3 separate regions of the Homo sapiens genome follow, and all the other regions are linked to region 3. The links come from fine-mapping of genetic effects on gene expression. A gene starts in region 3. Each other region holds a variant in brackets. All regions are shown on one strand. Distances are from middle to middle.

Region 1 (2,500 bases), 150 kb before region 3:
AGACAGTGAGCTGGGACCATGCCTGCGTTTTTTAAAACCATTTCCCCAGTGCCCACACAGTGCCCAGCACTTGATAAAAATGTATTACATGAGTGAACAGACAGATATGCAATATCCAGTTATTTGAGTCAACTGAGGGAGACCGTCAAACTCAATGTTTTGAAGGAAGAATAATCCAGAATTTAATATGTCCTTAGAGCCACTTTAGACTCTGTCCACTGTTTTTTTGAAACTGGGTCTCACACGGTCACCCAGGCTGGAGTGCAGTAGCATGATCACAGCTCATTGTAGCCTCAACCTCCCTGGCTCAAGCGATCCTCCTGCCTCAGCCTCCTGAATAGCTAGGGCTACAAGTGCACACCATTATGCTAATTAAATTTTTTTTTTTTTTTTTTTTTGGTAGAGACAGAGTCTCGCTATGTTTCCCAGGCTGGTTTCAAACTCCTGGGCTCAAGTGATCCTCCCGCCTCAGCCTCCCAAAGTGTTGGGATTACAAGTGTGAGCCACTGCGCCTGGCTCTGCCCACTGTTGATGCTGCTGGTGTTGGTCCTGGGAAGGAAGCCCAGAGTGCTGGGCCCAGCTGCACAGTGGGCCTGGACATGGCAGAACACCCAACTAGGTCAGTAGGACCCGCCGCTTCCATTTCCCTCCCCAAGCCCAAGCCAGCTGCAAGGAGTGTGGTGATAGGATAAAGGCAAGAGAAATGGGAGCTGTCCCCAGTTTAGTCAGTCACCAAGTGGTGATGGAGGGTAAGATAGAGGTAAAAATTAGACAAGGTCTCAGGAGGGAATTATAATGTGGTATACACAGAACTGTTACAGATAGAGGTGCACACAGAGCTGGGGGAGCTCCAGGGCAGGAAAAGCTTCACAGAGGAGGTGACATCTGAGCTGGAGTTTTAAAGGTGGAGAATGTGAGGACAGACACTCCAGACAGCACATGCATGTGGACAGCTGGCCAAGCTGAGTGCCTGCCTTGTCCAGGCCCCTTTGGAGGGGAGAGGCCTGCCACAAGCAGTTCTCTCAGCAGAGACTGCTGTGCTTGATGCCAGACAACGTTCAAGTTACTCACTGAAGTAAAAGCAGTAGTTGTCTCTCTTTTTTTTTTTTTTTTTTAAGACAGATTTTCGCTCTTGTTGCCCAGGCAGGAGTACAATGGCGTGATCTTGGCTCACCGCAACCTCCGCCTCCCGAGTTCAAGCGATTCTCCTGCCTCAGCCTCCCAAGTAGCTGGGATTACATGCATGTGCCAACACGCCCGGCTAATTTTGTATTTTTAGTAGAGACGGGGTTTCTCCATGTTGACCAGGCTGGTCTCGAACTCCTGACTTCAGGTGATCCGCCTGCCCTGGCCTCCCAAAGTGCCGGGATTACAGGCGTGAGCCACTGTGCCCGGCCAAAGCAGTAGTTCTTAAGGCAAAGAATATGGAGAAGCACTCCAGGTTGGGGGACTAGCAGGCACAG[C/A]ACAAAGGCATAAAAGACTATGGGTTAGTAAGGCATTGGCATGTAGGGGTTACGGCACCAGGAAGCATCAGCTTAAATTATTAATTTAATTTATTAATTGAAGCATCAGCATAAGTTATGAGTCATCGGTTGCATCCTGTGTAGCTGGAGTTGCCAAAAGCCACATTTCCCAATATGTGGAAGTATTTCTGTATCAACAAATGCCAGTCACCTGGGTTTGTATGCAGTCTATACAAGTCCTGACAGCTCCACACCAAGACATATTACTGGAAGGTCTCCATGAGAGTTGAGGCAGTCAGAGCATAAAGACAGAACCACACTTACCACCCCAGACGAGGCACTCACTGCATGCCAGGCACCAGGACACACATGTCATGGACATTATTTAGTGTTATCCCCATAAATGCCCATGAGATGGGGGCTGTTATTCGCATTTTGCAGATAAGGAGGCTGATGTTTAACATGACTAAGGGCTTGTCCAAGGTTATACAGCTAGCAAAGTAGCAAAGTTGGGATTCTAACCCAGGTTTGCCTGATTTCAAAACCTAAGCTCTCTTCACTTGCCCAGACGGAGGCAGAGGAGCTCCCAGCTGTATTCCATCTTTGCTGAGAAAGCATGAAGGAGATGCTGTGAACCTGGCACAGGCACACAAGGTCAAGCCACAGGGATCGGTGAAACAGCGGTGAGGCCAGGTGGTAAAGATGTACCCCTCGTCCTCCGACCAGCCTCACCGCAGTGCCAACAGATGACAGTCTAAGTACAGTAAGACCACTTTTGCCTCAGCTCAAAAGCTTTCTACTTCCTGAACCTACCCTCAGAAAAGGTCTGAAATTAGGCCCAGTTACAGGCTGGAAAAAATGATCAACCTCTGGCTAGGGAGAACATGGTGACTGTAACCCACATAGCCTACATCCCTCCACTGCCCTCCCTTTCTGCATCTAGCACTCCAGGGGTTAGGGAAAGGGGCTCATGGCTAGACAGGAAGAGACCTGCTGCTCATGGAGGATGGCCCTTGGGATCCAGATGCATGGCAGAA
Region 2 (2,500 bases), 180 kb before region 3:
GCCCTGGGAGAGTACATGCTGAGTGTGGATCTGACCCCTGTGTCTCTCACAGCATAGATGGAACCTCAGGAGCCAGGAGGCTGCCCTGCTCGCAGACCTGTAGACTGAAAGAGGACTATGATTAAGCATAAGGGTCAGGCTAACCAGCCAGGAAGGGCAACCTGGGGCCCTCCTAAGAGATCTTCCAGCTCACTTAATGCTCAAAAATGTGGCTAAGGTGCAGCGTATAAGGTGAATGTCCTCAACACTGGCTCATCAACCTAAACCATGTTCTAAGGCTTGGAATATTAAGCCTGTATCCACAGACTGGCAAGAAAGCTGACTGGTCTTATTAAGGAGTGAGGTGAGGGAGTAGTTATGTGTGGGCACCAGCAGATCTAGGGTAGGGTCTTCTCCTAGTTCCTACCAACCCAACTGAAAGAGGTGCTTCCAGATATGGGTTTGCTGGATTAGGGTAACAGATGGCTTCAGCTTGACATCTGTGCCTGGTTGGTTGGGTGGCCAGCCTTTTAGCCACTTCTCCCAATGACTGTGACGAGTGCAAGCAGCCCATGAGACAAAGGGAAGGCAGAGCCCAGCAATGAGTTCTTAGACCAGGGACCACAGCACATCAGTCCGTTATATTCAACCACAGGCCTTGGCTCCCACAAGGTGAGACTGTCATCCAACAGGATGAAGCCAAATCCCACAGATCCACCTTCCTAGAACCTTCTCTGAGTAGTGGTGGGATAGACATAACGTAGGGAGATAGGTGTTCTAGAGTCTACATGGTCTTGCTTGGGATCTAGCTGCTGCAGCCCCACCATAAAGGGCCATGCACAGGAAGAGCCTGGTGTATGTCTAAGCAAGTAATGCGAACACTTTCTAAATGCCCTGTCAAATATGTGTCTTGCTGCGTTCCCCTTGCTGACCACTTGAATGAATTCCATGGGAGATGGGTCCTATGGGAGAGCAGGAGTCGAAGGAGAAAGGATGGTAAGTTTAAGAGCAGGTGGGCATCATATGTCCTGAGAGAGGTAGCTCAGAGGTAAAGAGACAAACATCAGGTGCCAACCAACAAGTACTATTCCAAGCCTGTTCAGGAAGCTCTTGCTTCCGTATCTTACATGGGACTAGATGGAGCTGGAAAACACGGCCCCATCCAACAACTGCTTGCCTACTCAGTGCTAGGTCCTGTGCTGAGTACGAGCTCAGAACCTAAAAGTAAATTAGGCTTGGTCCTTTCCTCAAGAAGCTAGTGATAGAGACAGGTAGAGAAATAATCATAAGAAAATATATGTAATATATGTCCACATTCTATATTCTGGAATAGGATGCTATATTTTGGTACAAAGGTCACTGACCAACTTGAGGGTACTGGAAAGACATCTCAAAGGAGATAATGGCAAAGCTGAGCTAAGCCTTGAAAGACAAGTAAATAAACGTTAAGCCTGGTGGAGAATGTTCAGAAGGGTAGTTGTAAGACAAAGGCACAGAAGAGAAGAGAACCATAAGTAACTGTCCCTTCAAGATAAGGAGAGAGAATGCTGAGGCTGGAGGAGGGAAGTAGCCCCCATCAA[C/T]GGCAGAGGAACTTCAGCCTGGCACCCTCCCCACCCCGCACCCTTGTAACTCTGCCCTCTAGTTCCACCCAGGCAGGTGGAGCAATGTGTGAGGAAGAATGGGCAGGCAAGTGCATTCTGACTAGGTGTAAACAAAGCAGCTGAGATGCAAATACTGCACAGAAGGAAAAGGCCAGGCAGGGCGTGCATCAGCACTGCAGGGCTGGCCTGGTGCCTGAGGCTGTGTCAGGACCAATTTCAAGCTGGATCATCACTGGTACTTTCAGGCACTCAGTTCATGCTCTTTCTTGTTGGCACGTTGCAGTGGATATCCACATCTCTTCCCCTGTCTTCTACAATAGCATCCCCCTTTTCATTCCATATGCTCCTGGTTCGGCTGATCCCCACCACTGCTACTGGGATGGGCACATGTCTGGGCTGACCAATCAGGAGACCCCTTCCTAAGTGGCTCAGGAATGGGCACCTAGCCAGGCACGGTGGCTCATGCCTGTAATCCCAGCACTTTAGAAGGCTGAGGTGGGAGAACTGTTTGAACCTAGGAGTTTGAGACCAGCCTAGGCAACACACTGAGACCCTGTCATTATGAAAAATAAAATTGAAAAATTTAGCCAGTCATGGTAGTGCACGCCTGTAGTCCCAGTTACTTGGGAGGCTGAGGCAGGAGGACCGCTTGAGCCTGGAAGGGTCGAGGCTGCAGTGAGCTATGATCTTGCCACTGCACTCCAGCCTGGGCAACAGAGTGAGAGCCTGTCTCTAAATAAATAAATAAATAAATAAATAAATAAATAAATAAAAGAATGGGCACTTGACCTAAGTGCTATGCACCATGGTCTTCTCTGAGATTTCATATTTGGACGCTGGGGGCTGTGGGAGTCTCTTTTTTTCTCTAAGATAGTGACCTATACAAACCATGCAAGCCCAGAACAGGGTCAGGCAAACTA
Region 3 (2,844 bases):
ACCACTTAATATCTCAAAATATCCTTAAGAATCTCTAATCATAGGAGGAGCTGTATTGCCTTAAGAGATTATTTGAAAGTATCATTTGGCTATAAATTTCTGTGCCAGCTTCCTTTTAATCCTCTGTTGACTTGAAAGTACACCAAACATTTCAGTGATCATCTCTACAAGATAATTCTGCCTTAGAAACAACCTAATTTGTCATGGGGACTATCTTACTTTTAGTAACCTAATAAGAGTTTTTTCCTACCTTAATGTCCAGCTATCTATAATTCACAGTACATCCACTGAAAAGTTTGAGTATTTTACTTTCTGAGGTAATAGCCGCCTTCACTGGTCCTTCCCTCAATTAATTACATTCAGTTATCAGGTTTCACTCCTTCCTCATACGTGAAGGAAACATAAATGAGGCTTACTGAGGAATCATAAAAATGGACATTGTTGTAAAAAGGAATCCAAAATGTTCATGGGACACTCTCCTAACCAAACCTGCCCTCCTCACTAAGATATTTTCTCTTGCAAGCAAAAGCACCGAGGACACAACGGGGGAAAGTGCCAGAAGGAAAGGAAGCAAGAGAGGCGTACTTTGCCGATCAAACTGACCCCAGTTCTGGCCCCCGCTAGAGCAGTAAGCAATGACAACCGCTACCCAAACGCTGCCGATTCCCGCTCAGGCGCTCCCTGGACTTTTCTTTCCTTTTCCCACAGCAGGGCCCGAATGACGGTGTCCGTGCTCTGCGCCAAGGTGCGCAGCGCTGCGGGGTTTCACACGGAGATGATCTCAGACCTCCTGGCCTGCGTCCGGCCGGCCTTTCCCCCAGGCTCGGCGGCCCCCACCCAGGAGAGGTCATCCAGGTACTGGGCCCCCAGCCCGAAGGACGACTGGGCCGTGCCCCGACCCCGCCTTCCCGGGCACTAGCGCGCGGGCTCCGCGCCCCGCCCAGCCCGGGACCCGCGGCCGGCGGGGGAGGGGCGGGGCGGAGCGGCGACCGTTATTCGCGGTCAGCCATCGCGCCCCGAAGCGCACTGGGCAGGCCCTTACCACAGCGGAGAGGGAGGCAGGGGGGAGGTGGCGCCCGGCCCGACGCGGGGCAGGAAGGCGGAGGCAGCGGCGTAGGCGGCGGCGACAGCCGCGGGGGACCCCGGCGGGAGCCCACAACGCGCTGGGCTGCATGGGCGCCGCCATAGTGGGGACGCAGCGGCGGGCGGAGCGCGCGGCCGCGACCCGGTCGGGCGCCTGCGACCAATGGGCTCGCGGAAGCCGGGCGGAGCGAGGGCCTGGCCAATGCGGAGCTGCGCTGCCCCGAGCAGCCCAATAGACGCAGGAGCCGCGGATTTGCCGTCCCGCCCACCCCGCCTACCACGAGAGCAGTGCTGCGGCGAGTGCGGGGCGAGAGGTTCGCGCTGGTGGAGCACCCCAGCTTGCAGGTTCAGCGTGGGTGTCTCTCCCGGGCACATCGAGCTGTCTAGAGGAACCCTCTTCCCCTGGCTTCACGGCCCAGAGGACGCACGGCTCTCTCCCCTCGAGAGCGTGTTTCGTCGCCCGCGCGGGGAACGCAAAGTGCTAGGGTAGTCACGGCCACTTCACGCCGAGGGACATCTCATCTCGCCCTCCAGGTCGTGAGCGCACCCATTCCGCTCACTGAGGCCGAAAGCTTCGGACCTCCGTGGGCCCTGGTGGGTAAGGGGGCACGGGGGTGAGCGTTAAGAGACTCGTAGAACATTTTTAGTCCGCGCGTGGCACAAGGCCTCCAAGCCCCACGTACACTTTGCAGCCCTCCCACTCCTTTTTCATTCCTGCGGCTGAGCCCTGGTGTTATCCGCCTGGGGCGGAATTTAAAACTTAATTCCTCAACAAAGTCGGGGTGGTCTTTAAACTGCAACCTTGGATCCAAAGGCCCTACCTTACAAAGGGAAGGCAGTTTGCCCTACAAAAAGGCTTCTGGGAGGAGCTGCCTAAGGCAGGAAGGGACTGGCAGGCCGGGAGGTGCCGCTTTTGGCTGGGGCCAGTTCTCTTGAGGTCGACCCGACTGCATAGGCAGCCAGTAGGGGAGAGAACGGGCCGGTCTGTGTGATTTGGATCACCTGAGTTGCAGTTTCCTAAGAGTTATTAGGTTGACCAAAAAAAAAAAGTGCAGTTTCTGGAAAACTGGTCAGCTGTTGAGTAAAAACTGCTGGGATTAAACCCAGCGCCCACCCCTGGAGGCAGTGGGGTCATCGAGAAAGGTAGGGATCCTGTGTAAAAAGGCTGGTGAAGTGTTCCTCTCTTCCAAAGATGTATGGATTAGTGTTCTCTCACCAATCCACTAAGGCCTGGTTCTGCCCAGCCTCCCTTGCTACATCCCCTGGGAATCCCCAAGTGGAGTGTGGGCAAAGAAAAAAAAAGGCCAACTTCCCTCCCTGGGCCCCAGGAGGGAGCTGACATAGAAAAGATCACCTCCTGCACCTCCCTTTCTCCACAATGAGATACCAAGTAGCAACCACCTCTCAACCCCCAGGGACACAAGGAAGCATCCAGAGCAGCTGAACTGACCTAAGCCTCTCCTGCACCTGGACAGGGCCATGCCACAGGAAGTGCCTGGCTGTTTAAGGGCCAGCCGGTGCAGCTCCGGGGCACCCAAGTCCTGCACCTATTCATTGCCCCCCTCCCTGCTCTGTGGTTCCCCATCCTTGTCCACTTTGACCTCAGGGATCTACCAGCCAAAGGAGATTGGGTCTTCCTCCAGGGAAGCTTCTCACCAACTAGACAGCTCGGAGAGCAATCTGAGGATCCCACTGGAGGTTGAGTCCCTTGCTTTTCAAGCACCTAAAATGCACCCATCCTTCCCACTGGTTCCACAATTT

Alleles and levels. Positions count from the first base shown, and alleles are read on the strand shown. Sizes are in standard deviations (SD) of each study's normalised expression.
As copies of A replace C in region 1, the expression in monocytes after Pam3CSK4 of the gene that starts at base 1,200 in region 3 goes up (moderate effect, 0.69 SD a copy in Quach 2016).
With allele C in place of T in region 2, the expression in fibroblasts of the gene that starts at base 1,200 in region 3 is higher (small effect, 0.15 SD a copy in GTEx).

Evidence for each region. PIP is the estimated chance that this variant, and not a neighbour inherited with it, causes the effect. A credible set is the group of variants that fine-mapping cannot tell apart.
Region 1: its variant is the best candidate, but not a certain one, in a credible set for the expression of ST3GAL3 in monocytes after Pam3CSK4 (Quach 2016, PIP 0.73).
Region 2: its variant is the best candidate, but not a certain one, in a credible set for the expression of ST3GAL3 in fibroblasts (GTEx, PIP 0.71).

Annotation. Positions count from the first base shown.
Region 1 is chr1:43,860,644-43,863,143 of GRCh38, reverse strand. The region is part of intron 5 of ST3GAL3 (ST3 beta-galactoside alpha-2,3-sialyltransferase 3); the gene reads right to left. Among named protein-coding and RNA genes, the nearest start is that of MIR6079, 23 kb to the right of the region's middle. The variant C/A (reference allele first, on the strand shown) is at 1,464.
Region 2 is chr1:43,882,793-43,885,292 of GRCh38, reverse strand. The region is part of intron 5 of ST3GAL3 (ST3 beta-galactoside alpha-2,3-sialyltransferase 3); the gene reads right to left. Among named protein-coding and RNA genes, the nearest start is that of MIR6079, 45 kb to the right of the region's middle. The variant C/T (reference allele first, on the strand shown) is at 1,560.
Region 3 is chr1:43,705,892-43,708,735 of GRCh38, reverse strand. ST3GAL3 (ST3 beta-galactoside alpha-2,3-sialyltransferase 3) reads right to left here and starts at 1,200. Exons shown (of 12, transcript NM_006279.5): 1 at 1,043-1,200. It overlaps KDM4A-AS1 (KDM4A antisense RNA 1), which reads left to right and starts at 1,395. Exons shown (of 5, transcript NR_033827.1): 1 at 1,395-1,677. RefSeq lists silencers at 733-782, 813-1,312 and enhancers at 1,443-1,522, 1,248-1,765.